Regions from separate parts of the Homo sapiens genome. Here all the other regions are linked to region 2. Evidence: fine-mapped expression QTL. A gene starts in region 2. Each other region holds a variant in brackets. All regions are shown on one strand. Distances are between the middles of the regions. Region 1 overlaps WDR3 (WD repeat domain 3). Region 2 holds the start of GDAP2 (ganglioside induced differentiation associated protein 2). Region 3 overlaps GDAP2 (ganglioside induced differentiation associated protein 2).

Region 1 (10,443 bases), 26 kb after region 2:
TTTTTGTGGTGCTAGACTTTCTGTGAAGCAAACCCGAACTTTGCAACTAGATGAAGATGTTCTGTGTGTCAGTTACTCTCCCAATCAAAAGCTATTGGCTGTGTCTTTGCTGGACTGTACTGTGAAAATTTTCTACGTTGATACTTTAAAGGTACAGTGGTTATGCCTGCGGATATTTTCCCTTTCTGACTGACTGACCTTAAGAATTTGGGTTGAGGCTATAAAGAAGTGGCCTTGACTGTGCCCAGCGATAGTACATTTCTAAAAATGTGTGTGTGAATCAAAGCAATGTAACTATGCTAGGGAAGCTAGCATTTTAAAATAATTCTATGGTTCATGAATTTTGTTTAAAGCAAGTTATATTTCATATGTTCAAAAAATCTTGTGGACAGAAAATTCTGTCATACTAAGTAGTTATAAGAGCATTGCTAGGTGTCCTGGGCAGTGATTTCACACTTGGCTATATATTAGGATCATCTAGGTTGCTTTTAAAAATATAGATTACTGAGCCCTATACCCAGAGAGTTGATAGGACCAGGTTGGGCCTGGGAAATTTTTTTGTGAAACAAATGCCCTGGAATCTTTTCAGTGAGGAGATACAGAGATCTGACTGAGGCAGTAAGCTTCTGGGGGCTTCCTTGCCTCCACTATACTGCAGTATTCTTGGCAAGCACATGGAGGGTCTGTGTAGTGGACACAGGTACTCCTGCCAAGCTGTCTTTTGTGGGTTGTCTTTGAAAATACAGATATAAAGCAATTTAAAAATGTGTTTAAAGTTATATTTTAGACCTACATGTAATAAATTATACCCATATTTTATAGACAGACATTAATTATGTTTTTTTGATGTTTAGTTTTTTCTGTCACTGTATGGACACAAACTGCCTGTTATATGCATGGACATCTCTCATGTAAGTAGTTTAAATAGTGTCTCAGTAATATGTTGTCTTTTTTACAGCAGATACTTTCTTAATTCTGGCTTGATGTCTTCATCTTAGATTATTTGTTTTTATCATCATTCTGTTATATATCTTTCTCCAAAAACAGTCTCAAATTAATATATATTGTATCTTATATATATTACTTTAATGTTTTCAGAATAATTTTGCAAATATCATCTCAATCAATCCTTATAAATATTATCTCTTTCCCTCTTGTAGCTCTCCCAAATAGTACTTTATTGTTTAAAATACTATAATTGGTAGAGTACACTAAAATATGAAAGACTTTAAAAAGGCATTCCTTTTTATTCTGAAGGATAATGCTGCTGAGGAGCTCGGATTTATATTTGGATAGTTACGGTATTTTACACTATGTAGACTTTTGGTCTCTTGACCAAAATCATTTATTTCCCAATACCTAGTTTTGATTAGGAGTGGCAATGTATATTAAAAACAATGTCTATTCTGCAGAGTGAGACTCCGTCTCAAAAAAAAAAAAAAAGTCTATTCTGTGTGAAAGGAGTTGACCTCATAGCTGTCTGTGGTCAGTGCACTAACAAAGTTAAGTTACAATGTTAAATGTATTTCTTTTTTTTTTTTTTTTTATGTTGACAACCATTTGGACCACGCATTGAAATAGGAGAGATAAGAGAAATACTGATAGGGAATGTGGGCTACATAAACATTCTAGTAGAGTCTTTCTCAGCTTCTCTTCTGTTTCTTTCTCCCACTTTCTTTCCAAATCCCATGCCAGAGATTAGAAAATCTTTTTCCTATCTAACGAAGTAAATAGATAACCCTATGTCAAGGCACAGCACTGCCCTGTGACAGTACGAAAGTATTTAAGCCACAGAGTTCGTGCTTTTACTTAACAAGCTTTTTAAGTTCCTCTGTAGGTAAGAGCAAAGAATTCAGTGTTTTTAGTAGAGATGAAAATCAGTTTTTTGGCTTCATTTTAATGTGTTTGAAAGAAATGGGTTAAATATTCTGGTTAGCTTTTTATTCATATACGGAATTCAAAAATCAAGGTAGTGTTTTACTTTTATTTCTCATAGGATGGAGCACTCATAGCAACTGGCTCCGCTGATAGGAATGTGAAAATCTGGGGTTTGGACTTTGGGGACTGCCACAAGTCTCTCTTTGCACATGATGACAGGTATGTATAGTCTTTTCAAATGTCTCCCTTTGAGTCACCTGTAAGTTATCACTTTCCTTGAGCATCTGTGTCTATTTTTCAGTGTTCTCAGGCAGTGATACAAGTTCTAAAATATAGTCAGACACCCTAGAACTAGCTAGTCAAAAGCTATTTATGTGTGTAAAACTCTTTTTACTAACCTGGAATTTGATGACATTTTAATATTTCTGTCACTTTTCAGTGTGATGTACCTACAGTTTGTACCCAAGTCTCACCTCTTCTTCACTGCCGGAAAAGATCATAAGATTAAACAGTGGGATGCAGACAAATTTGAACACATACAGACTCTGGAGGTAACCACATGCCTTCTGTGCTTGCTTGGTACTTAAGAAATACTTTTAAGAATATTTACATTACCCACTAAGTAGTGGTCAATGAATGAGGTATTCTTTATTTTTTTTTTCTCCTCCAGGGTCATCACCAGGAAATATGGTGTTTGGCTGTAAGCCCCAGTGGAGACTATGTTGTATCATCGTCCCATGACAAATCTCTGAGACTTTGGGAGAGAACAAGGGAGCCTCTTATTCTTGAGGAAGAAAGGGAGATGGTAAGAACTTTAGGCTTGGTTACAAATATGCCAGTAGGTATCTGACAGGCTGTCCTAGTTGAAGTTTTCTGTCTAGTGCAGTTACACCTGATGCATTGCCAAGTCCAAGAACCTTCAGGAGATCTTTTCAAGACCATTGTCACCCATTTCAGAAGCTAGGCAGAGATAAAGATGCCATTAGGGTATTATGTTGTCAAAGGAGCAGCTTCTCGCTTCCTCATTTCTCTTCATATAGAGACCATGTTTTTTTCTCTCAAATTAATGTATATCTATCTCATGGCAGGAAAGAGAAGCAGAATATGAGGAGAGTGTGGCCAAAGAAGACCAACCAGCAGTAAGTAAATTTTGGGGACCTTGAGATTATGCCCCATATATAGTTATCTTATTGAAATTGACTATAATGTCCAGAATTTCTAATAGAATTAAAATTGAGGCTAGAAGTTGCAGGTATCACCAGCTGATAAAGAATCTGTGTAATTCTTTCTCTTCAACTGTATATCCTAATTTTGTGGTTCAAGTGATTGACCAAATTTGCTACTGAATAATTATTCTGTCAATTGAGACTTTAGGGAATTATTTTATTCACTGTAGCACAAAAATAAAAATTAGAAAATTTGGATATTCTCTTTTTAAACATTTGCAGGATGTTCTTACAATAATACATATGCTAAGTTCTGTTACTGGTAGCTGATAACACTGTTAGTATTTTCATAAAATAATAATAGCTGTTCTCATATGGATGTAAGATTAATTTATCAGCTCTTTAACTCAACAGTCAACAGTGTTATTCAAGGATTTCTTTGTTTCTGGCAGGTTCCAGGAGAGACTCAAGGTGACAGTTACTTTACTGGAAAGAAAACTATTGAAACAGTGAAAGCAGTAAGTTGATATAGAATGTGGTATCTCGTTTTTTAATAAGATCTCAACTTTTTAGTAAAAGTTTTATTCTGTATCAACCAGAAAGCCATTTTTTTGGCAAAAAGTTGATGAGATTTAAAGATGGGGATTATAACCTGTTTCCTTCTCTTGTAACCAAAGATGGGAGTAGTCCTGAATCTCTTTGATCAATATGTGCTCCTTTCAGGTGTTCCTGGGACCTGCCCTATTCAGAGTGTCTAGATATCATCCCACCTGAGTCCATGACACTCAGTCTCTTCCCTGTACATTAAAAAATAAGAAAACCAAAAATGTCTTTAAATGCTTTTTGGCACTCTATTCGCACGTCTTTATTAAACAGATTGAAGCTATTTCATTTGGCAAATTTCTGGTCAGTTCTTCCAGTTTCAGTGTCCTGGGATGATGGAGTATGTTGTGATGACTTCTTTCCTTTCTCATCCTCTGTAGGCTGAGAGGATTATGGAGGCTATTGAGTTGTACCGAGAAGAAACTGCAAAAATGAAGGAACACAAAGCCATTTGTAAAGCTGCAGGGAAAGAGGTAATAAGAGAGTACAGTAAGTTACAGTATCAATAAAGGGAATTCCCAAGGAGAAAAACCATTGTTTTGGGATTTATTAACTAAGATCAGGATATGCAATAAATGGAATAGAATCTTTCCAACTCACTATATTAGAAGAAATTGAGGAAGTGTGGGAAGAAGGGAACTTGGTCTTAATGAAAGCGAAGGAAAGGAAATTACAGATTGAGGTGATTATTGTCTTGAGTAGAAACCCACGTTCTATGTTGGTTTGGGAGGCAGGGTAACCATTTCAGATTTCTAGATAAAATACATTGTCCAAGCTCATTCATGAGTACTAT[A/G]GAAACTAACAGGTTTGATAATTCTTTTACACTCTGTCAGTTTTTTAGGGTCTCTTTTTTCCCTTTTCAAAATTATAAAATACAGTTACCACTCTGTCTATAACAAGTGCTACCTAAGTCTCAGTTTTTTTAATGACTTGATTTAATAATTTCTTCATAGGTTCCACTTCCCAGCAACCCCATCCTAATGGCTTATGGCAGTATCTCAGTGAGTAAAATGTCTAACGGTTTTCCTTTGTTTATTAAAAGGTTACTTACAAGGACAAGAAAGGAAGTAGAGGCATTATGATTTGGGGATGGATTATTGGGAATACTTTGTCTTCAAAAGTCTCTTTTGAATCTTGGCATTCTCTAGGATATTTTGTATTTCAAAAGGACCACTTTAGTGTGACTTCCCAAGCCAGCCTTTTTGGTTGGACTGGACTGGCATTCTTCTGTTTTCTAGTGCCTGTTTATGTTCAGTGTCCAAAGCCCTCTGAAGATTCTGTTAATCTAAATTAACTTTTGAATCAGCCTTCAGAAGGAAAGTTGACAGAAATCAGTCTGATGAGATAAAGAAGAGAGAGAGGGGAAGAGTGATGGGAGAATGTATGTTTATCTAGTAATCTCTAATTAGTATTTTATTGCATGTCTCATCACAGTAATTTTGTGAGTCAGGGTATCTTCACCTTATAGATAAGGAATCTGGCTTGACTTGTAGCATAGTTGGTAAGGGGCAGAGTTCAGTTGTCAACCCAGATCTGACTGACTCTAAACTCATGCAGATCTTGCCATTTTAGAATACTTTTTCTGAAGTAAGAAGGAGGGGTTCCTGTTTTATAGGAGATAGAAATTAGAGAACTTTAGTAGAAACCAACCAAGAGTATCACTAATGGTATTAATCCTTCCTTTATAGCCTTCAGCTTATGTATTAGAGATTTTTAAAGGGATCAAGTCGAGGTGAGTGAGTCCTTGCGCACAATTTTTGTAATCTGTCAGCAAACATTTATGAAGTGCTTATCTGAACGGGAAATAAATAGAAATTATAATTGATGGTTATCTTATAGGTTTAACTATATCAAAGTTTTGATGGAAAATAATTTATAATGTTCTTTTTGAAGTGCTAGAACTAGGAAGTTCCTTCTAAAGTATGAAGAGAGATGCTTTTAAGGACAAATAAAGGGGAGTGATTTATGTTGTAGGCGATGAAATAATATATAATTCAATTAGAAGCACCAATTGTTAATTTGTTTTATATTTTGGCTTCTTTTCTATGTACATACACAATTGGAATATTATATAAAGTTTTATATTCTGTTCTTTTTCACATATTTCCTGAACATTTGTTTGTTGTTCATATTCTTCAAAAAAAAAAAATCATTGGATTCAGAATTATTCCATTGTATGAATAATTACTCGATATTGCATTTGTTTCTCCTTTTTGGCTATTATCAGTGGCTTCACTGAATATGTTTACACATATATCTTTGTCATCATTATTGATTATTTTTCTTAAGAGTCCTAGCAGCCTAATAACTGACCAGTAGGCATAAGCTTTTAAAGTTTTATATTGCCAAATTACTTTCCAGGGTGATTATACTGATTTTTAGCAGGCTTTAAAAAATTTGTTGCCAGTGTGTGAGCCAAAAGGTAATATTTTATTATTTTCATTTCTTTTGACTATTAATGAAGTTAACATTTCAGCATATTTGTTGACCATTTGTATTTTGTCCTGTGAATTTTTAGTTACCTCTTTTTGCTCTTAAGTATTATTTTACTGGTTTTTAAAGAATTCTTGCTGGGCACAGTGGCTCATGTCTGTAATCCCAACATTTTGGGACACTTGAGACCAAAAGTTTGAGACCAGCCTGGGCACCATACTTTATTTTCTTTGTCATACATTTTTGCAATAATTGTTATATTATTTGTGATTTTCCTTTTGATTTTATTTATGAGTTTGAACTACTGAAGGCTATCATTTTCATAATGAACCACAATATCTACATATATATTCCTTACAAGAAACAACACTTGTCTTAGGATAAAGATGAAACTTCACTACAGGAATGTAAAAGAAAATTGATTAATGTGGAGGTTACAATACATTTCAAGATAGGAAGATTCTGTGTTTTAAAGATTTAACTTTTCCTAATTAATAGGTTTGTAATCCCATTTGATATCCTCTTAAGATTTTAAATTGGAATTGATGAAATAATAATACTTGAGCTAGTTCTAGAGGGAACTATTTTCCCAGATTAAAAGGCTACAAAATTAGCAAAATTAAAATAGTGTAGCATTGGTGTCAGGATCAATCATCATGTCAGGATCAGTCATCATAATAGACTCTAATGGACTCAATATATGGTAAAAGAATATCATATGAAGATGGAATATTCAACAAAAGGCTTTGGAGATATTGTTTATCTGGAAGGAAAAAAAGTTAGATTTTCCCATCATGCCATTGACCAAAATGCATTCCAAATAGATTAAGATATTAAATACAAAAAACAAAGAGAGTCATCTAGCTTACAGATGAATATTTAACTCTAGGCAAGATGTATCCAAGTATAAAATCAGTAGAAAAAATAATAAAGGGAAGGATTTAAAAATTGACCATGTTAACAACGTTAACAAATGTGGCATTTTTATATTTATTTTTTCTTTTTCAGTGAGCTGGAAGAATCTCTACTTGTGCTGCCTTTCTCTTATGTCCCAGACATTCTTAAACTCTTTAACGAATTCATTCAGCTGGGCTCTGATGTTGAACTTATATGCCGGTGCCTCTTCTTCCTCCTTAGGTAACATCCTTTTCCAAAGAATACCATGTCTGTTCAGCAGAACTGCTTCAGTAGTACCTTAACTGAAGCTGTCAACACTTTGGGATTAAGAAATAGTATGCCGAACTCGGTGGCTCACACCCGTAATCCCAGCACTTTGGGAGGCTGAGGTGGGTGGATTGCTTGAGCCCAGAAGTTTGCTACCAGCCCAAGCAATCAGTCTTGCCTTTAAAACAAGGATCATGATGACCCACCTCTTTAAGTAAGAAGTCATGGTAATACATTGCTCAGGAATGCTTACTCAGTCATAGGCCTCCATGTTACAATCTTAAGATAGCTCTGGTTCTAGTCAGTTTGCCAAAAGCCAATTATGATTGGCCAGTTTGCCTCATTTGTTGTTTCTTTTAAGCCAACCTTGTCCAGCCTGTGGCCCGCAGGCCACATGTGGCCCAGTATGGCTTTGAATGTGGCCCAACACAAATTTGTAAACTTTATTAAAACATTATGATTTTTTTGTGATTTCTTTGTTGTTGTTGTTCATCAGCTATCATTAGTGTATTTTATGTGTGGCCCGAGACGGTTCTTCCAGTGTGGCCCAGGGGAGCCAAAAGGATGGACATTCCTGTTTTAAAGTGTTTAGTGTAAGCTAACAGGTTTTGCTTTGTCCTTTACCAACATTTTAAGAAAGTCAGTTTATTTCTCTTGGTCTCTACAGGTGCAAATGGAAATGTAGGGGCATATATAGAGGTAAACTAAGGAACATAAAGCAAATATGTTCATTAGGCTATATTCTTACTTATGAAGATTCTGTTAATAGGTAGTTGAGAAGAATATATGCACAAAGGCTTGATATTCTTCTCATCTCTCACCCTCATTCTCAAGCGGTTACAGCAGAGAACAGGGATGGAGACAAATTGAACATTCCTTCAAATACTGTTATGAAGACAAAAACTGGTCAGCCAATGCCAAATAGTTAAACAGGTATATGTAGTGAACTGACCAAATAGGTATTTGGTGAATTGGCCTGGTTTTATGATTCTTAACCCTCCATTTCTTATACTCTATCCAGGATAGTAGCAAGAGAAGAAGAATAATATGTTCTGTTGCCATATTCATAATTTGGGGCAACTTGTAAAGACATAAGTTCATATTTAACCATGTTACTAACAATTTTTTTTTACTGCTATGGTATACGTGCTATTGAATTAGGGTTGCTGGTTCTACGAGTAACACTGTGAATACTTATAGCGTATCAGAGGCTTATGGATGGGTACTACCTGACAGGTATGGTAGGGTCATCAAGGATATCTTGGTACTCTAGGTCAGAGTTTGAATCTCACGAATGTCTCTTTTTTGCTGTGGCTTTATTAGAAGTATTAATGCATCTTTGTTAAGTTAGCATTTCTTAGAAGGCTCATTCTGTCTTTGAGTTTTCCTTAAAGTACCACTGTCAAAATCTGTAGCCACTGGCAGGTTGCTGGGCTGGAAGAAGAGCCTTTGCAAATGAGTTGAATGTGTCATAAGGTTTAGGACAGTATTTTTTAAGTTGTCATCAAATTGAACTGAATAGTAGAGAAAGAAACTTCTTTGGCTTTTTTTTTTTTTTTTGCTCGAAACATTTCTATAATGTATATTTTGTTGTTGCTTTGATATTGTGTCTGTTTACTGTTTCTAGAAGGGTTAAGTAGGGCTAGAACCTCTCTGCAACATGGCTGTGTTTTGTTTTTCTATCAGGATTCACTTTGGACAGATCACTAGCAATCAAATGCTTGTGCCAGTGATAGAAAAATTAAGGGAAACAACTATTTCAAAAGTCAGCCAAGTCCGGGTAAGTGTCTTTGTATAGAGATAAAATAATGAGGCAAATTCCTAGTGTGATTTAGAAATAGTATAGTATGCTGTGCTTTGTCTTTAGCAATACCCACCACCGATAAATCCATATTTGAGATAGTTTTTGTTAGAATTAGTAGGAATAGAAAAAACAAACAAGAAAAGTTCTTAATGAGGGAAAGATAAGTAACAACACCTGAAGCTTTGGTTACCCTAACTCTCATACGCTGCTATAATGAATTGAAGTGGGAGAAAATTTTTTAATATTTCTTGTATTGCACTCCAGGATGTTATCGGCTTCAATATGGCTGGTCTTGATTATCTCAAGAGGGAATGCGAGGCAAAAAGTGAAGTTATGTTTTTTGCTGATGCTACTAGCCACTTGGAAGAGAAGAAGAGGAAGAGGAAAAAGAGGGAGAAGTTGATTCTAACGTTGACTTAGAACTGAAATGTGGTATCTTTTTTTTTTTCAACTTTTTCCTTTAAAGGACTCCTAAACTAAGCACAGAAGAGTTGGCGTCATCTTAAAAATACCAAATAACAGAAGATCGCATTGCAGATGATATCAGGATGTGGTTTCCAGCTTTGCCTGAGGGAATTCCAACATGAGATTATGGGCTGGCTCCATTTCTTGGACTTAAAATGCATTATTAGTTTAAAAATCTTTCTGTGCTCTCAAAGCTTGAGCCTTGCAGCTCAAGCTTGTTGTTCCCTTTATATTCTAGCAGGGAATAAATAATTGTTTTAATTAGGTATTTGTTTCATTGGAGTTGAAATTAACATTTCAAAAGTTTTTCGTATTTTTTTATGGCAGATGATTTGTCATTTATTTATATTAGGTTTTACTGCCTATTGAGACAACCAGGTGCATAATTGATTGCCCTTTGGCCATAAAAATGCAGTGTCATGGATCTTAGAGCTAAAAAGGACTGTAAAAATTACCCAGAACAGCGTCCTCAGACTTAACCTTCTGCAAGTTATGTCTGTATATAAGAAGATTCTAATTGCTAACTGTTTATACTTTTCTGAATAAAATAGTTGTTTCTAATTAAAAAGTAGCCAAGCTAAGATGCCTGGCTGGGCTTCTGAGGAATTAATACACTCGTGTGTGTGTGTGTGTGTGTGTGTGTGTGTGTGTGTGTATGTGTATGTGTATGTACACATACATATATATAGTTGACACTTGAAAAATGCAGGTGGTAGGGGCACTGACCCACCCCTACGCCCCGCACAGTCAAAAATCTGCATATAACTTTTGATTCCCCAAAGTCTTAAGTACTAGTAGCCTGTTATTGACTGGGAGCCTGACTGATGTATTATATATATTGTATACTGTATTCTTAAAGTAAGCTAGAGAAAAGAAAATGTTACTTAGAAAATCATAAGGAAGAGAAAATATATTTACTGTGTTTATCAA
Region 2 (10,443 bases):
AGGATAATGGCCTCCAGCTCCATCTATGTTGCTGCAAAGGACATGATCTCATGAAGTTTTTTGAGAAGTTTTTCAGTATGGTTTTCACGTTTGTTGTCAAACAAAACAAGCATGCCCTTCCACAATACATTCCGTGATGTTTCCTGCTGAGAGACATGGGATGCTAATTGGAACAAAACATGGATCTAGTGAAATATGCTAATTCCTAAATCAACACTGCGGAACAGGAAATGTGATCATTTATATAACAATTTCAGAAAGGCCTTGTAGGTTAAACAATGATAAATTTGTATGAGAAGACTATTCTTATTTGACACTAAATACACCTTTGAAATTACTTTGAAATAAAGAAATTAATTTTACCTAAAAGTTGGTGTTTAGTCCATCAAATTGGTCTTTCCACAAGTTTTGTTGATCTGTTCATAAGTATTCAGACTTGAAATAGACAAGCTGAACAGAGGACAAATGAAGACTATATACTCTTCTATCATGGTTAAATTGCCTCATGCTCAATGGAATGACGCTTGACAAAAGTTCATAATTTCAAAAAATTACCTGCAGATTTTTTATGACAATGAGTCATTGTCATAAAAAAGCTCTTAGCTATAATCTAAAAACAAATCCATTAAACACAAACACAGTTTTCAGTTTGTAAACTTGAATGCCAACTTTCAGGACAAAATTGCTTTTTTAAGATAACTTTTCTTTCTGACTCTAAGTAATACATGCTTACAGAACATTTGAAAAATACCAAATCGGTTGGACGCAGTGGCTCACACCTGTAATCCCAGCAGTTTGGGAGGCTGAGGCGGGGAGATCACTTGAGCCCAGGAGTTCAAGACCAGCTTGGGCAACATAGTGAGACCCCATTTCTACAAGAATACAAAAAACTAGCCAGGTGTGGTGGCATGCATCTGTAGTCCCAGCTACTCAGGTGGCTGAGGTAGGAGGATTGCTTGAGCCCAGGAGGCAGAGATTGCAGTGAGCTGAGATCACACCACTGCACTCCAGCACGGTGACAGAGCAAAACCCTATCTCAAAAAAGAAACAAAACAAAAAGAAGGAAAAGAAACCAAAATTAAGGGGGAGGAAAAAATTCCTCAACTTTTGATGTAGTTACTACCTTTTTCTGTGATAGGTAAAATCATACTGGTACAATTTTGAATCCAGTTTCTTTAGTATTTTAAGGTAAATATTTCCACACACAATTACACAGTGAGGCAGAGACAGTATGGTTCGATGTGAGAATTTGGACTCTGTTATCATAGGGTCTGAGTTTGGATCCAGGACCATCATCTAATAGTTTTGTTATCTTTGACTCTGAACCAGTTTTTTAATTTCTAAAATAAGGGTAATTCTCCTAAGATTATTGTGAGCATTCAATGAGATAACTGGTGTCAAAACTGCATAGGAGAACAATTACCTTAACTTCCCTCCAACTCAAAATCATTCACTGTTTCCAACTTCCAAGTGACGATTTGAGGGTATATTCCACACGTTTAAGCCCACCAAATCACTTTAATTTAATCAATTTCCTTCATTTGACCATTTCTCCTCTTAAGAGAGTGTTACAACATAAATTCTCCTTTTACAATTACATCTTGGCTTTTTCCTTCCTCTCAATCCTCCTGTTCTCAAAAAGGTTTTCCTCCTTTATTTCTTCTACTTCATTTCTTCTTCAGAATACTAAACTCCTTTTTACCACTTGACTTTTTAAGAGTAATTTGTTTTGTAGCTCTACTTCCTCTTCGTACATTTGCCCAACCTACTGCAGTTTTGCTTCCGCTCTACAGCTATACGAAAACTACTCTATTCAACAATAACTTCCCAAATGTCAAATCCAAGAATTAATCCAATTTTATCCACATTTATTACTGATCATTTCCTCCTCAAAACTCTATTATCTTCTTTGACATTATACCCTGGTGGTTCTCCTATATCCCTGATCATACCTGGTCAGTAGAGTTTGTTGGATCCTTTTCCTAGCTTTTAAGTAATTGTGACCCACAAGATATTGGATGTTAAATAAGTAAAAGTAATGCTCATAGCTCTTATTGTAGGACAAAATTTAATGGCATTTTATGAAGTGTCACAGTATTTAACAGAGGTTGAATTCTTTTTCAACTCCATCTCTAAACAGAATTGATGTTTCTCACCAAAAAGAGGTTTGAATCTCTCCTTCCCCTAAACACATATACACCTTAGTAATACATACAGTAAATGGAGCCACAAACCCAAGCTAGGCAGAAAAACCTGATCCCTGAGAGAACAGTGGTTTTTAACATTCTCAAGGTCACAGGCCCCTTTGAGAATCACATGAAAGATACAGATCCTTTCACTCCCCAGAATATTTGTATATGAGCTCATACAAGTAGATTTGTAAATAAATTTGAATTAGAATCTCAGTGATAGAATGCAAACAGATTGCTTAAGTGACAAAGGGAGGAGGAGAAGGCTCCTACACCCAGTAATCTATAGCCACAGCCAGAATTTTTGCTAACATTAAAGGAGAGCAAGACTGTCCACTGAAAATCAGTTGATCAGCTCTGTACTTTTAATAAGTTCATAAACAAACACTAAGCCCTAGTTAAAAAAAAAAAGGCTCTTGAAGCAAGACATTAATTTCCAAGGATCAAAAAGTCTACATGGGACAAACAGAAGATTCCATAATGAATCAAATCTATTTCCATATCCATATGATCTTCAGTACTTTAGTGAAGAGGACCTAAAGACAAAGATAACCCACTATGTATCTTTTATAATTCAAATGGTGCAGTGTAAACAGCTCTCATTACACTGTAACTTGTTTTTTTTTTCCTCAAATCCTGTCATCTTTTAGTTTAAGAAGTCCTTTAAATACTGCTTAATATGAATAATTGGATTGGCTAGAGAGATCAGATTTTATTGTTCAAAACTGGGCAAAATTGGGCATAATACCTTGGATCACCATCTCAAAAAAAACTTTTTTTCTGGATAGAAAGAAAATGATATCATTTAAGAGAGAAAAATGGTAACTTTTAACCTGTTTACCTGTCTTTCAAAATGCTTACATTGATCAGACCAGCCTGGATAACAACAGTACAAAGAGAGCTGGTGCATGCACTTGACCGCCATTAATTACCGGGTTTACCATTCTTTATGACTTTGTATTTCAATATTTAACAGTTCAGAGTACATGAGGATATGTGTGCATACCATACTTAAGAATCATTTTATGCCACCATCCAACACCATACTTAAGAATCATTTTATGCCATCAGAAAGACATTTTTTAAAAAAGATTTTCAGATTGGAAGACTAACTGAAGTAGTCAAATATGTCAACAATAAATACAGTATAACAAGAACATTCCTAAGCTTGTCAATGGCTTGGGTCAAATTTAACATCATAATTCAAAAGCACCCAAAGAACATATCCTAACAGTAAATTAGTAGTACCCCTTCATATTAAATGAACTGCACTATGTTTTAATTGTAAATATTGATATATTAGGCATTTTGAAACTTAAATAAGGAAGTAGAGTTACATCCTTGAAACATTGTATAAGGAATTTTGTAAGATGCATTACCTTACCACTCACAGTTGCTCTGATACCAACTCTTATTAAAATCATTTTTTTCCATCTGTGGTTGTCCCATCCCATAATATTTAATAATATTAAGATAGTTTTTTAAGAAAAGGTAAAATCATGACTCATTCAAATATAAAACCAAACCCGTGTTCAAGATTTTATTTAACTCAAAATGGAACCAGGCAGAGAAGATAAAGAAAATCCCAGAATTAGACACCTTAGAGCAGGAATATTGAAATAAATGTGCAAAAGGAGGCAAAACTTCCACTGAATCTCTGAGAGAATTCGCATGTCTTGACAATAATTATTTAGCATTGATGTCACTTACCTAGTTTACGTAACTGAAAAATAGCTTTTTTAGAATTAGTTATTCCAAGGGGTGTTAAGATAGAATCTAAACTATGTAGTTTTCCATTGAAGCACACACTTCTCCCCATAATAATATAATGCACAGCACCTGTCAGGGATATTAACCATACATACCCACTCAAATGCTCCCTTTCCCACCAAGCTTATTAAAATAATAGTTTGTGGCCACAATTTCTTCCCTTCTCATTTATCCAATACACAGCAATCTTGTTTCAAAACTCCTATGCTGCTACAGCTGTCCACAGTCTCATCATACGCATTCTTTGCTATTGCAATTTTCTTGAATATGGAAGATTAGCTGAACATGCATTAAGCTCAGGAAACTCTAAAGAAAATCAGATAATGTAGACAAAAGTCTAATTTCTAGGCTGGCTGCAGATACCTTGTTCAAGAAGCGCCGGCAGGATCTTCTTTTGTACAGCTATGTTAGCTTTAATTTTGCACAGCTCTAGACATCAGAACTCATTTCTAAACACTTCTATGCAGCTCAAGAATAAAAGTAGCAGAAATGCAAGAGAGAAAAGCTAATTCCCACTTGGTGAAAGAGCACTTAAGTCTCAGTGAGCAAACAAGGAGGAGTCAGCCTTGGTCACTTCCCCCTCAAGCGGCCAGAGAGCGGAAACACAAAGCCAGGCCAGTGTCACTCCAGGGATTGCGGGAACCTAGACAACGCACCATCCTGGGCTCAGCGTCTACCCACCCCTCACCCGAGGTGCTCTCGGTTCCGTAGAATGTCCAGTCCACAGGAACGGCAACACGGACTTGTCTTTGGGACTACAACCAGCAAGAGCTCCCGCCTGCCCCATTTCACCTGCACCCTAGGGCGCCCGCCTCCTTGGCTACAGCACCACTGTTCCTAGTGCCCGCCGACTGCCCACCCTTTCACTTCTCGTAGAGACGGCGTCCCCGACAACGCCTCGGGAAAGAACCTAACCAACATGCGAGGAAGTGGCGCCAGGCTCGTTCTTCAAGAGAAGTGACAGAACTAACCCTCAGCCTGCAATCCTGACCAGGGCCGAGTCCCGAGCGCCTCGGACCGCGCCCCCGGCCCTCTCCGCCCCGCCTTCCCTCCCGGCCTCAGTCCCTCCTCTCACAGCACTCTGGTGGTCCCATCCGGGCGGCGGGCGGCACGGATCAGGCTCCTGGTAGAAGGCGGCCGAGCGACATCTCCGGCGACCCTCAGCAGGAGCGCGCCGAGTACGGCGAGTCAAAGTCCCAGGAGACTGGAGTGACCAGCTGCAAATGCTCTGGGCTGCGAAACACCGGCTTCCGCTCCTGGCCAGAGCTCACCAATCAGCGCCCGGCTTTCTCCGTCATTTCCTCCTAGAAGGCAAAGGGAACCTCTGGCGGAAGAGGCTTCCGGAACGGACCCGGAAGGGGCAGGTCTTGTGGGCGGGTCCAATCGGCTGGGAGCCTCGTGGAGGCTGAGGTGAGTCCTGGAGGTGCGTGGTTGGGGCGGAGAGCATTATCTGCGGCTCCGATTTTGCAGATTCTGGCTGAGGCGTTCGTGATGTCAGCAGCAGCCGAGACGGGCGTGTTAAAGGCCGGTTGCTAGGGCTGGGGGAACTCAGGTAACTACGGGCGTCCCCACAGCAGTACTTGGAAGCCCCTCAGCTACTCGGCGCGGTTGCGGGTGCTGAGCAGAGCTGCCTGACCGTGCGTGTGCACGGGCTGGCCTGAGGATGATATGACCGTGTGTTCGGTGTGTGGAACCCTCCGTCACCCTCCCCTGACCGAAGACTCGTTTAGGAATGTGTGGCAGGTCTGTTGCCACGGTCCAGGCCTTCAGTGCATCTTGGAAACATCGTTTTGGGGGCTGTAGGTTAGGAAGCGGAGATCATGGGGTCTCGGAAGAAGGTTTGGTCGTGAACTGTCAGAAAGGAGGCGAAAGCTGTGCACGTGGAACAAAGTGAACAGTGCAAGTTGTATGGGAGGTAGTTTAAATATCGAGGCGATGAAAAAAGGCTGCTAGAATTGGGCTTACTCGAAAGGAAGTGGGCCTCAGAAGATAATATTAGTTAAAAGAAGTAGAGGAGAACATGGATGTTATTCTAAGTAAAACGAATAATATGAAGAATACAAGGTCGCGGGACGAGGAAGGAAACTAGCCAGCCTGACAGGAAGGTTTATTCGAGAAATACGGGGGTTAGATAGGATGAGTTTTTGGAAACTGGCAAACGATTTAGCCTTTTCAAGGCTTTAGGATAGGGAAAGCTCATTTGAAAAGATTAGTCGGTAGTATTATGACGTTTAAATGAAAAGAGTGAAAAACATGGAGGCGGAGGTGCTAGGTGGAAAATCAGTGCAGTAATCCAGTGATAAAGAGCTGGAACTGAAAGTGCTGGAGAGAAAGGGATCCTGTTTCAGAGTAACAGTCAGGTGGAATTGACTAAAGAGAAAGAGGCAAAGAGAAGCAGTTTAGCATAGTGGTTAAAAGCAGAAATTTTGGAGTTAGACTGGCTGGATTGGGATCTGGCTTTGGCAATTAGCTGCTAAATGACTTTGAGTTAGCAATTTGCCATCTCTGGGTCTGAGTTCCTTGTCTGTAAAATAGAGATAGGAAGAGTGACTTCCCTTGTGGTGTTATTGTGGAGAATTTGTTTATTTATTTTTAGAGACAGAGTCTCACTGTCACCCAGGCTGGAGTGCAGTGGCGTGATCATAGCTCACTGCAACCTCGAACTTCTGGACTCAAGTGATCTTTCTGCCTCAGCCTCCCCGAGTGCGTCACCATGCCTGGTTAATTTTTTAAAAAATGTTTTGTAGAGATAGGTTCTTGCTGTGTTGCCTATGTTGGTCTGAAACTCTTGACTCCTAGGCCTTGGCCTCCCAAAGTGCTGGCATTACAGGCATGAGCCACCATACCAGGTCCTTATGGATAATTTTTTTATGCTCATATTTACAATGTGCTAGAGGCTTTTCTAAGTGCTTTGCATATGTTAGCTCGGTTTCATTAATTGCTGTATGTAATTAAACAATTGCATAATGTTATCAGTTACTATAGCGTAAGCACTCTCTAAATCTTGGCTGCTATAATAATATTTTTTTATTAATAATTCAAAGGTTATTAAATGGTTTTGAGCCTGAAGAGCTGGGAAAATTGTGTCTTAGTGTCAGAAGAAAAGAGAGGGGTACCAGAAGTAAGGTAGGCTTGGTTATAGACATGTTAAATGTGAAACTATAAGGTATTCAAGTGGAGATGTTCAGTAAATATTGGAAACTCTATAATTAGTATTCATGTAGGTGGAAAGGACTGGAAATAGACAGATGGGAGTCCCTGGACCTAGGCATGCTATATGAATTCTCCAAGGAAAACACTGTAGAAGGAGGTGGTAGATGGCCAAAGACAGACAAACATAAGGAACAACTACAGAGTCTGGAGGAATAAGAGGAATTGGGAAAGAATTAATCAAATGGCCTAGGCTAAGAGCATTATCACCATGTTAATATTATCTTTCCTTGATTTTAAATTGGCTTTATGTTGGTTCCTGTGAGAGAAGCAATGAGGCCAGTAAGTGATTATTACCAGAAAATATTATCAGAGAGTTGAGATTGAATTTTTTTTGTGTTAGACTAAAACAGCATTTGATAATTAGAAAGACCCTGTAGAGTTAAGCCAACCAACCAAAGAAACAAAAAACAATAGCAAAAAGAAACAGCTCCTCATAAAAGACTGTAACTTCTTTATTTTTGTGTGTTTTAAGTTGCATGGGTGTTTTTTGGGGATACTTTTTACTCTTCCATGTAAAGAACAGATGGGACTGATTTGTTATCTCCTTCATTCACCTCTTGTCCCTTTTATAAATAACCAGTGGATTATGGATTTTCAGTGAATTTAATAAAAGTGCAGAAATTATGGCATCTTTCCAAAAATAGTGTGCCAAGTTGCTCAACCATTTTCTATGCCAAGGGTAAGTGGCTGCTCTGATTTTGAAATGAAGGACAGACTTTCATGTACTAGTAGTTCTCAAAGTGTGGTCCAAGAACTGCAATAGCAGCATCACTTGGAAACTTGTTAGAAATGAAAAATTCTAGGCCCTACCTCAGACTTATGAAATCAGAAACAGGTGCTGGGAGAAGAGATGAGATGGTGTTTTCTAGCAATGTTTTCATAAGCCCTCCAGGTGATTTGGATGTATACTAGAGTTAGAGAACCACTGTACAAGAAGGTAAGTACCATGAGGTTAGGGATTTTGCCTTGTTAATAGTGTATTTCCAGTGTCTAGAATGGTGCCTGTCTAATTGGTAGGTTTTCAATAGATATTCATTGAAAAATATGTTCAGTCTCAGACTGCCAATCTCTGTGTAAAAGCTTTGATGCTGGTTTAATGGGCAGAAGTAAATCAGTTTAGCTGCATTGAGCCTATAATGTCAGATATGCATGAGGTGGGCATGACAACGTGACTAATTTGGAACTTGAGGAATGAGGGATTATATTGAGTCAACACTGAATAAAAAATGATGTCCAGGTATTTTAGGTCAATGATTCATTTAGAGTAAATAAAGATTAAGAAGTCACAAGTTACATGCTTTTAATGACATGATCAACAGTTGGTGTTGTTCTGGCGCAGTGGCTAACACCTGTAATCCCAGCACTTTGGGAGGCCGTGGCGGATGGATCACTTGAGGTGAGGCTTTCGAGACGAGCCTGGCCAATATGGTGAAACCCCATCTCTACTAAAAAAAAAAAAAAAAAAAAAATTAGCCGGGTATGGTGGCACATGCCTGTAGTCCCAGCTACTCGGGAGGCTGAGGCAGGAGAATCGCTTGAACCTAGGAGGTGGAGTCAGCTGTGAGCCAGGATCCCACCACTGCACTCCAGCCTGGGCAACAGAGTGAGACTCTGTCTCAAAAACAAAAAAACAGTTGGTGTTTACTAACCTAGTAGAACCAAGGCACCCAAGGAGCTGAGTTTTCTTTGTTTATATGCACAGATTGCTTCACCTGTGGTATCAGACATCACAACATGGGGCTCACCAAGCAGTACCTACGCTATGTTGCTAGTGCGGTCTTTGGCGTTATCGGCAGCCAAAAAGGTAATATTGTCTTTGTGACACTTCGTGGTGAGAAAGGACGTTATGTGGCAGTACCAGCTTGTGAACACGTTTTCATCTGGGACTTAAGGAAAGGAGAGAAGGTGAGCCTAAAATGACCAGTTTGATACTGATTTATTGGTATTTGAGGATGGAGAGGTAGTAGAAGTGGGGGGGCTCTGATTTATTTATCATGAGTTTTTTTGTGTCTGTGCCCTTAGAAGAAAAATCTTTTTCCTTTAGGTCTAGCTAGCCAAGCATCAAGTTCCTTTGTGTTCTTCGCCACTGAATTCTGAAAACCACAATGAAATAGGAGCTTATTTCTTAGATGTCTATTTGTTGGAATATTTACAGGTCATTATTTGCAGTAATTATTTATTCCTGATGTATTTTTTCTCTACCAATTCTATTTTTCAAGCTCGACTTATGCTTATAGCTGGTTATAAAATATTAGGCATGTAAAAGGAAGGTTAGTCTATTTTGGCAGAATCTTTTTCTAATATGGATAATGCCCAAGTGTTGTTAAAGTAGACTTTGATACTTTGTGTGACTGAATTCCCTAAGCCTACCACTTTTGCCAAACCAAATATAGGCATTTTGATATTGTCCATTCATTTTGTGATTCCCAAGAGGTTAGTACTTTGATTCTTGTTGCCACCAAGAGTCCTTTGTGGTTAAAACCACTGCAGTACTCTGTTGCCACACAGATTATTTTCTTATAAAATGGGTCTCAGTTAAAGGAATTTATAAACCTTTATTGAAAATCACGTAGTGTTGTTCTAGGGTTAAGAATTAGATTAAAGGGATTAAATTTATTTTATTGCCTAGGGAGTTTTTATATGTATTACAACAACGTAGGGCTTTGGAGAAAATAATTAAGCCTTTTCTTAAATGTTTCATTGCCTAGTACAAATACTAATTTCTATATTAAAAAACTTGAAATGGATTGTGGAGTTTCATTTTTATTCATAAGAGTAATTTGGAATTATTGGTGCTCTTAATTTTACTGTGCCTGAGTATTCCTATGCTTTTCCCTTGAGTTCATGCTTAACTCTTCTACATTGTTTTTAATTTTTATGATTTCAGATTCTTATCCTTCAGGGGCTTAAACAAGAAGTTACTTGCTTATGCCCCTCCCCAGATGGGCTACACTTAGCTGTTGGGTATGAGGATGGGTCGATCCGAATCTTCAGTCTCCTGAGTGGGGAAGGAAATGTGACCTTCAATGGTCACAAAGCAGCTATCACTACCTTGAAGTATGATCAGCTAGGAGGCAGACTGGCATCTGGGTCCAAGGTGAGCCTTTGAATCAGCCCAGGCTTTGATCTATTAAAGGAATGTAAGGCTTATGCTGAAGCAAGTTGTTGACAAAAATTGTCAGGTAAAACAATGGGCTGTCAATATACAAAGTAGTATAATGATAGAGTGAAGAGGATGGGTGTGAATTGGGTGGTTCATTTTGTTTCCTTT
Region 3 (10,443 bases), 50 kb before region 2:
AAAGTTTGAAACTTCTTAGAGATTGGTTAAGTGGTTGTGACCAAAATGCTGATAGAAATACAGACAGTAAAGGCCATGCTGATAAGGTCTCAGATGGAAGTGGGGAACTTAGGAATTAGAGCAAAGGTCATCCTTGTTACACCCTAGCAAAGAACTTAGCTGCACTGTGTCCATCCCCTAGGGTTTTATGGAAGGCCAAACAATACTGGTACCCTACGGTATCTGCTGGAGGAAATTTCTAAGCAGTAAAGCATTCAAGAAGTGGTGTGGCTGCTTTTAACAGCTTATAACCAGATATGAGAGCAAAGAAATGACAAAAAGTTGGAATTTATAATTAAAAAGGACACAGAACATAAAATTTTAGAAACTCAGCCTAGGCATGTGGTAGAGAAGGAAAGAACATTTTCAAGAGAGGAATCTAGGGGTGCTGTGGAGCAACCACTTGCTAGAGAGATTAGCAAGGATAAATCTTTGAGGTAGCTCCTCGCATCACAGACCCAGAGGACTAGGAAGACAGAATGGTTTGGGAGCGACAAGGCTTTAACACTTCAGGATGCTGCTCTCTGCATCCCAGCCCCTCTGGTTCCAGCGATGGCTCAAAGGGTCCCAGGTACTGCTCAGGCAACAGCTCTGGAGGGTGCAAGCTATAAGCTTTGGTGGCTTCCATGTGGTGTTAAGTCTGCAGGCATGCAGCATGCAAGAGTGGTGGAGGCTTGGCAGCTTGGAACTAGATTTCAGAGGATACATCAGAAAGCCTGGGTTCCCAGATAGAAGTCTGCTCCAGTGGTGGAGCACCTCCAGGCAGTCCTCACTGGGGCACTGCCTAGTGGAGCTGTGGGGTTGGGTTGCTCCCGTCCAGACCCAGAATTTCAGCCTGGAAAAACCTCTAGCATTCAGCTTCAACCTGTGAGAGCAAGCCATGTGGGTGGCAACCAGCAAAGCCATGGGGGTGGGGGTGCCCAAGGCCTTGGGAGCCCACCCCTTGTACCAGTGTGCCCAGTATGCAGAACATAAAGCCAAAGGAGATTATTTTGGAGATTTAAGATTTAGTGTCTGCCCTGATAGGTTTTGGACTTATAAGGGGCCAGTTACCCCTTTCTTTTGGCCTGTTCCTCTTATTCCTCCCTTTTGGAATGGGAATGTTTACCCAGTGCCTGTACAACCATTATATCTTGGAAGCAAATAATTTGATTTTGAGTTTACAGATTTACAGCTGTGAGGAACTTGCCTTGAGTCTCCAGATGAGACTTTGGATTTCTGAGTTGGTGCTGGAACAAGGTAAAACTTTTGGGGACTGCTGGGATGGAATGATTGTATTTTGCATGAGGGAAGAACATGAGGTTTGGGTGGCTAGGGGCAAAATGCTACATTTTGGATATTTGACCCTCTAAACCTCATGTTAAAACCTGATCCCCAGTGTTGGAGGTGGGGTCTAATGTGAGGTGTTTGAGTCATGGGGTGGGGCAGATCTCTCATAAATGGCTTGGTGCTGTCCTTGTGGTAATAAGTAAGTCCTTGCTCTATTAGTTCCTGTGAAAGCTGGTTGTTAAAAAGAGCCTGGCACCTCCCTTCCCTCTCTCTTGCTTCCCTTCCCACCATGAGATCCCTGCACATACTGGTTTCCCTTCCCCTTCTGCCGTGAGTGGAAGCAGCCTGAGTCCCTCACCAGAAGCAGATGCTGGTGCCCTGCTTCTCATACAGCCTGCAGAACCATGAACCAAATAAATCTATTCTTTATACTTAGCCTCAGGTATTCCCTTACAGCAACAAAGAAATGGACTAAGAAACCCTCTTTTGTTTCTTCCCCATTTTTATGCCTCTCTTTGATCTAACATCTCAATTTTAGAAAGCTCTAGCATAGGTACAAAGAGATGATCCAATGAGCCAAGTGTTAGATTATAAGTTAGTCTACTTAATTTTGATTAATTACATTATGCTTGTATTTATACAAAAATAAAACAGCCAAAATACACAACCAAACAAAACAAAAAACAAAACCAAGCTTGAGTGTGGTGGAGCTATACTTAATATTTAATGAAAGCCTGCTTTATAGGCCCTTAAGTATATAGAAAATGCTTTGGCTTAAAATACAGTCCTTTAGGTTTCCTAATCAAACACCCAACTTATATATTTCTATCCCAGAAAATAAATGATAAATCCAGATACTAGCTATGAATTGTCTTCAAAATTTTGAGTGTAAAAATGTTGCTTAGTGCCTTTCACATTTTCTGCTATCCATTTTTTTAAGCATTAAGATGAGTGATGTAGAGTTCAAAGGAAAAACACTAAGATCATTTTCTACTCCAGCAATCTGCAGTAAATACAAACTAATGTACTCTTTTCTCTTTCCTATATTCAACAATTTTTGTATCTATGATCCAGCTGCTCCAGTTACAAATCCTCTCTGTATAACAGCCAAATATGAAATTTTATTAGCCATTAGATCACATTATACACTTTACTCTGCACATAAGGGGAAAAAAATTATAGCTAAAGTTAGAGAAATGTTAGAGAGAAATTGTGTTGCAGAATTTTTATTTTGCTGTATAAACACTGCACAATAATTAGGGAAGAATAATTCATTTCAAACTTAATATAACTTTCAAATCTATCCCCTGGTTCATACAATATAAAGATAAGCAATCAGCAACAGTTAAACAATCAGCTTGATGAGCTTTTGGCCAAGTGTGTTACTTTTTTTTTTTCAAAAATTACTAAGGTGATATCATGAATAAACACAATAGAATAAATTGATGAAATTCACGAGTAGTCCTGTGACTAGTGCTTATGTAACAGATCCATAAACGCATCTATAAATAACAACAATAATATTATCAGATGATGCTCTTAAAAACATTATACAACCTTTTAGATAAATGAAACTTTTAGCAGGGTAAAGACTACTGAGATAGGCCACATGATTTGCAATTAATTCTAAAAGTGATCACCAATAAATTCTTCTGGCTCTGTGTAGATGGAAAGCCATTCAATCTTAAGAAAATTAGGCAGAGGTATCTGTTTTAAATATGGTAGAAAACTTACAATACAAACGAAAATTGGTTCTGAACTCACAGCAGAGAGATCTCCCACTGAAACGTTTATCTGGAGAAAATGCCTCTCTTGGGACAAATCCTTTTCCTAAAGTTATCATAGGGAAAGTATGTTAAATGATATTACCAAGTTTATTAAGACTCACTAATTTACATTAATATCTGGTAATGACAGGATGTTGTGCTCGTAAGTGCTGCTCTATAGAACAGTTAATATACCATACCAGGTGAGGGAGAACTTCTGGTACTTCTTACCCTGGCATCATATTCAAGGACAAAAGGAGGAAAGTCAATCTGTTCTGGTGATATGGCAGAAAACAGCTGGTGGAGGCTGTCCACATGGTGGATTTTGTCCTTCAGTCCTGAGACAGAAAAGGTGGTAAAAAACCATGTTGACACCTGATTAATAGAAGAGAAAAAATAATTTAAGCTAGTTGCCATAGTTAGAAACATAAACACAATTTGGAAAATTTATAGTAGATAAAAACTATATTTCAAAGTCTTAAAATAACTAGTGTTTTCAAAGCGCAATCTGAATTTTGCAATCATCAGTTTAGTTGATTATTAATAACATTAAAAAGAAGAAACGAGGATAACACTGACTAGAGACTATAAGAAGAATGAGTTTTGTTTCATGAAGCTTTTGTTTCCATTACATGTATATAAGTTCCCATGCGTGTAGTGTGTTAGTGCTGTACTACATGCTTCTTACTGTGGGTTGTAGTCAAAACCGCTGCATTATTTGGTAGAATAATTGGTGTTCCAGTCTTCTGAAAATGGTTAATATCTCCAAATCTCACACTGTGAATTTTTCAAATGAGACTGAAAAGAAAATTTGTGCCAATATTTGGGACTCATATATTTTCAGTTGATGCTTGGCATGAATTTCTTTCTCGAAGTCCATCAAAGTGAATCACTTGTAGATGTGGTGCCATCTTTGCTCATTTCACTTGACAACATGCAATCCCTCTCTAAAAGCTAGTCTGCAAAATTTGTTGGTTCCCAAAAAAAGGATAAAAAATTCTTGATACCAAACAATACTGACATAAACTAGGTAATGGCTTGAATTTAAAAATTACTGTTTATCTATCTAAATTGGCAATCACAAATTAGTCCATGTTTATCAACATACTATACAATAGTCCTATGAGGCAGGTATGATATTGTTGCTATCCCCATTTTACTTACAGAAGAAGGTAACGTATGCAGGAAATAGCAAACTTTTTTGAAAAGGACCATTATAGTAAATATTGCAGGCTTCTTATAATAACATTATCAGAAAATCGTTCACAAGGCATGCCTGAAGGTTCTTGGAGCAGTGCAATATTGGAGGCAGGACAACATGAAAATTAATTAGGAGGCTGCTGTGTCATTTCAAGTAAAAGCTGATAGTGGGATGAACTAATGTAGAGGCAGTGGGAATAAAGACACAGACATAAATTTGAGCAATTGTAAACACACAGAACTGATGCAATGTGCTAGGAGATGAGGTACAGAAAGTGCTCCAGAATGCCTCTCTGGTTTCTGGCTTAGGCACTTGGGTAGGCAGAAGTCCCATTTGCTAACACAGAAAACACAAATAGCAGTTCAGGAATAGGTGGAAGAGGAGTACATGAGGAGTTCTGTTTAAAAATGTTGAACTTCAGGGTCCTATAAGATGCCTAAGTAGAGATATCTAACCAGTAGTTCAATACCAAGGTCTAAAGCCTAAGAATGATAATGATGATGATGATGATGATGATAATGACAATGATGATGATAGTGTACATTTACTGAG[C/G]ACTTATTATACGTCAGGTAATGTTTTAAGTATTTTACATGTATTAACTCATTTCATCTTTCAATAACCCTAAAAGATAGGTACTATTATTTCCATTTTATAGGGGATAAAATAAAAGCAAACAAATTATACTACTTGCCTGAGATGATAAATTGATAACTGGTAGAGCTGGGATTAGAACCCAGGTAATCTGAATCTTGAAACCATGGTTCTAAACATTAGGCTTTATTGCCTCCCCAGATATATGTTTGAAGATTGCATATATTTTGGAGGGTCACTGAAGAAATGGGAATAAAAAAGGTATAGAATTAAAGATGAGGGTGGAGAAACACGGGAACACTAACACTCAAAGGATGCAAGCAGGAAGCCAGGTGCAGTGGCTCATGCCAGTAATCCCAGCACTTTGGGAGGCCAAAATGGGAGGATTACTTGAGGCCAAAAGTTTGAGACCAGCCTTGGCAACAGGGCAAGACCCCATCTCTATAAAAATACAAAATAAAAAAAATTAGCCAGACATGATGGTGCACGTCTGCAGTCCTAGCTATTCTGGAGGCCAAGGTGGGAGGACCCCTTGAGGCCAGGAGTTCTAGGTCACAGAGAGCTATAATCACACCACTGCACTCCAGTGTGGGTGACAGACTGAGACCCTGTCTCTAAAAAGAGATGAGAAGAGAGAGAGAGAGGCTGACAAATGAGACTGAGAAGCAGCAGCTAGAAGTAGGAGAGAAACCAGGCAAGGTAAGTTTCAAAGAAGCCAAGACAAACTGTGTCAAGGAGAAGTGATCAACTGTGTTTAAGGCTGCAGGGAATGCAGGTAACAGAGAGAGAGAAAAGTGTCTATTAGATTTAGTGACCCAGAAATTATGGATGATTTTGGTGTGAAAAGCTTCAGCTGGCAAAGCAGGATAACCACACTGGAGTAATTTAAAAGGTACATGAGAAATGGAGATGGTGAGCATAGAACAAAGATTATACTAAACAATTTTGGTCGTAAAGTGGAGGAGAGAAAAATAGATCTTAGCATTTTTAAAAGTTGGTAGATAATTTGGATCCAGCAAAGCGGGAGAGGAGAAAGACACTAACTGTTGAAGAGAGCTTCTTTAAGGAAATGGAAATACACTCTGTAGTTTACAGTCTGGGATTAAAATGCCTAGATTCAAATCCAGCCTTTGCTACTAACTGTTGGTTATCTTGGTTCCTTAATCTCTCTAAGCATCAATTCCCTTACCTGTATGGTGGGACAACTACTGCCACCTATTTCACAGGTATACTGCAAAGCTTAAGCAAGATAATTCATGGGAGGAACTGGCAGATAGCAAGTGCTCAGAAAACTTAAGCTAATGTCATTACTATGGGATTCACAGCACAGGGAAAGGGACTGTCCTTCATTAAGAAGGACATTAATGAAATGTGTTCATTAAGATGGAACACATTTTTGTGACAGAGAAAAAGGAGGCAATGATAAGAACAGCTAGCAAGTAGGTTTGGAGTGGGAAGGTAAAGATAAAGAGCTCCTTACTGACGGTTTCTTTGAGTGAAGAAAGCAGTACAATGGATTATTTCAAGTTTAGGTTTTGATGGGCAGGTGTGATGAAAGGGTAACAGGTCATAGGTTAATTTAGGCATTGACAAGAGTGGATGAAGTGATGAAATGTCAGTTTTTAGCTTGATAGAGAAGAAAATAAGGGCAAGATGATATTTTCAGAAAGTAAAAAGACCAAGAGACTAGATATCTTGATGAAGTCAAGATGTAGGCTTAGGTAGTGGGAATATAATTGTGAGCAAGACTGCTATATTCTAGCCCTCATGGATCTTGCTGGCTCATGTATAAGGAAGAAAATTAAACATGCAATTAAAATAAAAACATAACAATGATATAAGACTACAGAATCTTAAGGGGTTACAATGCTAGAACAGCTACTAGCTGCAGGATTGGTCAGGGAAGGATTTCTACAGAAAGTACAGCTGAGACCTGAAGGTCAAACAGGAGGTAGCCATGGGCAGAGGAGGGAAGTGTATTCTGTAACAACAGCATAAATGAGGCCCAGATGAACAAAGAGCACAAAAACAGGCAGGGACTGATGGGCTAACGGCTTATAAGGGTTGCCCACAAAGGCGCTGGAGTCACATACAACCAAAACATCAGGACCACAACTCAAGATCACTTAGAAACCAGGAAATTAGCAGTCACAATGGTGACAGCAACAATTAAGTTGCTGAGCTATTATCTTAATACTCTGGGCATGCAGTGCACATAAATTCTAGATTTAACCAAAGAGAAAAATACTGTACCTTTGAACGAAATGTGGGATGTACAAAATAAACAGCCTTCAAATTCCTCTTGTACCTGATCCAAAAATAAAATGACAAAAAAAATCAGTATAAGTTCATGCCTAAAACCAATTACTATTATAGACTATTAACTATTTGCCTGAGTATATAAATATATTCAGAGAAAAATAAAGACAGCTATAATTTACAGATTGAATTTTAGGTGAATGCCAAAAACAATTCAGAGAACATTCCATTTTTTAAAGTATCTCTTTTATAGGAGATATTAAGTGCTTCTGTCAGCTGCTATAGGTAGGACAAAGTTAAGTAAATTTGTATTTAAGAAACAAATTTATGGTGTGTCATTTTTTAATATGATGCTAGAATCTCTGGGATCAGAGTTAAACAGCAGCTAAACCACTTAAAATTATAGCAAAATTTTAAACTAAAAGTTTCAATGGTCATATTACAACAACAGATTGTTGTAACAATCTGTTATAATAACAATATTATAACAGAATTTGCTGTGCCCCAGAAATTGTAGAGGCCTTCTACTTAAATTCTCAAAACAATTCTATGAGCTCAGTACTATTATTGCAGCTATTTTTGCCCTCCCAAAGTCACCCAGTCATCAAGTGGCAGAGCCAGGAACTGAACCCAGGCAATACCACTCCAGATTCATTCTCCTATCCACTATTCCATCTGGCCTCTCTACGTGTGCCTGAGATTTTTTCAACAGTTCAGTAATCAACATTGGGTCACGTGAAGTTAATTGGAAAGGACGTCAGAGAAATAGTACAAACTATTTCACAGTTGAGGCCTGTTCCACGTTTAAGAACTGGTTAGTGGTAGAAGCAGAACTACATATATACAACCCACATTCAGAGTAAGCTAAAAAGGTGTCTATTGGCTAATGAAAGCTTTAATATTCCTAAATAAGATGAGATTTAATGGGAGAAGTAGGATAGCTGGAAATTTATGGTAACTTGCCTTCTTTGTACCCTAACTGTAAAATGGGCTTTTCAATGCAATCCACACAGACATTGTGATGCTACAAATAACAGAACAGCTAACAGGAGGGTTGAGTGCCACTTTTTATTCAGAAAAAAAAATAAGAAAAAATGTAAAACACTACATTTCATCTTTGCTATAGTGGGGTATCATGTATTTTCTGGTTAAAATTTCCATTATCATTTCAAGGGAAATATGCTTTAATGAAAATAATTTTCTAGCTCCAAGTCAGTAACCTGGGTTCAAGTCCAAATTCTGCATTTACTGTTGTGAGACTTTGGGCACATACTTCACCTTGCAGAATGTCAATATCTTCCATCTTTCAAACACAGATAATATCTCTCCTAACCAACTCCTGGGTTAAAGGATCAAAGTAAATAATGTTTATAAATGTATTTTGATAAGTATAATACATCATATAAATAGAAGGTAGTATTTTTGTTATTTTATCCACAAAGATTGGTAATGTAAAAAGTTTACATATGAATTTACTTTAATGCAAAATAAGTTTCAGTTACGGAGGGTCTCCTATGATTGAAGTATCTAATCTAGGTATGATAAAAGTCTTTGTTACATGAAATATCCTTTCACAGAATACAAAGCAATGTTTGCCACTGCTTAATATTAGAAAAGAAAGAAACTATTTCCCCTTCATAATTTGCAAAAATAACTAACTTGACATCAACAACATCGTAGAGTTTCTTCAGGAAGTCGGAGTCCAGGTGATTGTATTCGCTGGTCAGGGTGTGAAAATACACTAATACATACTCCTTCACAGCAATGTGATCCATTACATGAATGAAATATAAGAGAGCCTAAAAGATAAAAGGGGAATAAAGGTGAAGATCATTTTGAACAGTAGTCTATTTCACAGAGACCAAGAAAAAACAAAACAAAACAAAATAGAAAATTAACCTACTCTATGCCCTAGTCATCATAAATGGATAACTCAGAGTGATGAATATCCATTCTCTTTAAAAAGAGCTCCAGGAAAGTGAATCATCCCAGTGTTTAATAATTCTCATAAGTGCTACAGTACAATTCCTTTCTGTCTTATTCTAAGTGATAGAGGAGAACAATCAGTCTCTATCCTCTAAAACAATTCTTCATATACTGGAAAAAGTTCTTGGATCAACTACCAGGTTTTCTCTCTCCAGGACAATGATATCGAAATCATTAGAAGTAGAATTTCTATACTTTTAATCATTTTTGAAGTTTCCGCTTGAATTCAATCAAAGTCTTTGCAGTCTCTACTCAGAAATAGACTCATGGCCTGCACATAACCAAGAATTACTATAAAAAGATGTAATGAGTGGTGCCTCACATGATTCACGTTGAGAGCTAATTTTTTTAGATCTTTAGTGCTGATCTGAAGGAGGACATTGACAGCAGGTTTAATCAGTAGATGGCAATAGGTTGGGAAGCATTTCTAGAGCTCTGAAAGATTCAAATTTAATGTGACCCAGATTGGTTATAGAAATATTCCATTACAAAAATGATGAATTTAAGAGAAACACTAAAAACAAAACAGAGATACAATATAGGCAGGGCCAGTATGACCCAGTGGTTTAGCTGTAAACAATCACATAGAAAAAGCTAAGAGGTAACAACTGAAGGATTACTGTAAAACAAACTGTTTTCCAATTCCTCTTCAGATGAGTCCTTGACATTAACATGGTTGGATTAACATGGACTAGGATCCAACTGCTACTAGAGCAGATAGAGAAGGGCATTAAGAAAACACAGTATCTTTCCATTCATTACCTGCTTTGGTAACAATTATTATTATCACCATCTATCTCAATATTTTACAGGAAATGATACATCATGAATATCCAGAACCCCATGCAAGTACACACCAAAATCAAATGCAAAGATTTATGGTTTTATTTGTATTAATCACATTATTATGAAAATGAGGGTCACACTGATTATTAAGAACATAAATGATTACAAACAGAAACTTACTAACGGTATAATTTTCATCAGTTTATTCCCTCCGTGTGTGTGTGTGTGTGTGTGTGTGTGTGTGTTCTGTTTGTTCGAGACAGGGTCGCTCTCTGTCACTCAGGCTGGAGTGCAATGGCATGACCTTGGTTTGGGAGATCTTGCAACCTCTGCATCCTGGGCTCAAATGATCCTTCTGCCTCAGCTTCCCAAGTAGCTGGGACTACAGGCATGTGCCACCATGCCTGGCTAATTTTTGTATTTTTCGGACAAAATAGATAGGAGATAGGATTTCGCCATGTTGCCCAGGCTAGTCTCGAACTCCTGGGCTCAAGCGATCTGCCTGCCTCAGCCTCCCAAAGTGCTGGGATTATAGGCATGAACTAC

Evidence for each region. PIP is the estimated chance that this variant, and not a neighbour inherited with it, causes the effect. A credible set is the group of variants that fine-mapping cannot tell apart.
Region 1: its variant is the best candidate, but not a certain one, in a credible set for the expression of GDAP2 in whole blood (INTERVAL, PIP 0.63).
Region 3: its variant is the best candidate, but not a certain one, in a credible set for the expression of GDAP2 in whole blood (INTERVAL, PIP 0.62).

Annotation. Positions count from the first base shown.
Region 1 is chr1:117,949,980-117,960,422 of GRCh38, forward strand. It overlaps WDR3 (WD repeat domain 3), which reads left to right. Exons shown (of 27, transcript NM_006784.3): 15 at 16-151; 16 at 855-911; 17 at 1,997-2,097; 18 at 2,318-2,429; 19 at 2,549-2,683; 20 at 2,967-3,017; 21 at 3,497-3,562; 22 at 4,028-4,120; 23 at 4,601-4,648; 24 at 5,336-5,379; 25 at 7,089-7,217; 26 at 8,931-9,024; 27 at 9,313-10,443. The coding sequence ends at 9,468. SPAG17 (sperm associated antigen 17) reads right to left here. Exons shown (of 49, transcript NM_206996.4): 49 at 3,611-4,070. Among named protein-coding and RNA genes, the nearest start is that of WDR3, 25 kb to the left of the region's middle. The variant A/G (reference allele first, on the strand shown) is at 4,441.
Region 2 is chr1:117,924,414-117,934,856 of GRCh38, forward strand. GDAP2 (ganglioside induced differentiation associated protein 2) reads right to left here and starts at 5,208. Exons shown (of 14, transcript NM_017686.4): 1 at 5,035-5,208. It overlaps WDR3 (WD repeat domain 3), which reads left to right and starts at 5,326. Exons shown (of 27, transcript NM_006784.3): 1 at 5,326-5,369; 2 at 8,875-9,077; 3 at 10,060-10,269. The coding sequence starts at 8,907. RefSeq lists enhancers at 5,133-5,427, 5,309-5,478.
Region 3 is chr1:117,874,704-117,885,146 of GRCh38, forward strand. It overlaps GDAP2 (ganglioside induced differentiation associated protein 2), which reads right to left. Exons shown (of 14, transcript NM_017686.4): 11 at 8,785-8,924; 12 at 7,120-7,174; 13 at 3,306-3,449. Among named protein-coding and RNA genes, the nearest start is that of GDAP2, 50 kb to the right of the region's middle. The variant C/G (reference allele first, on the strand shown) is at 4,828.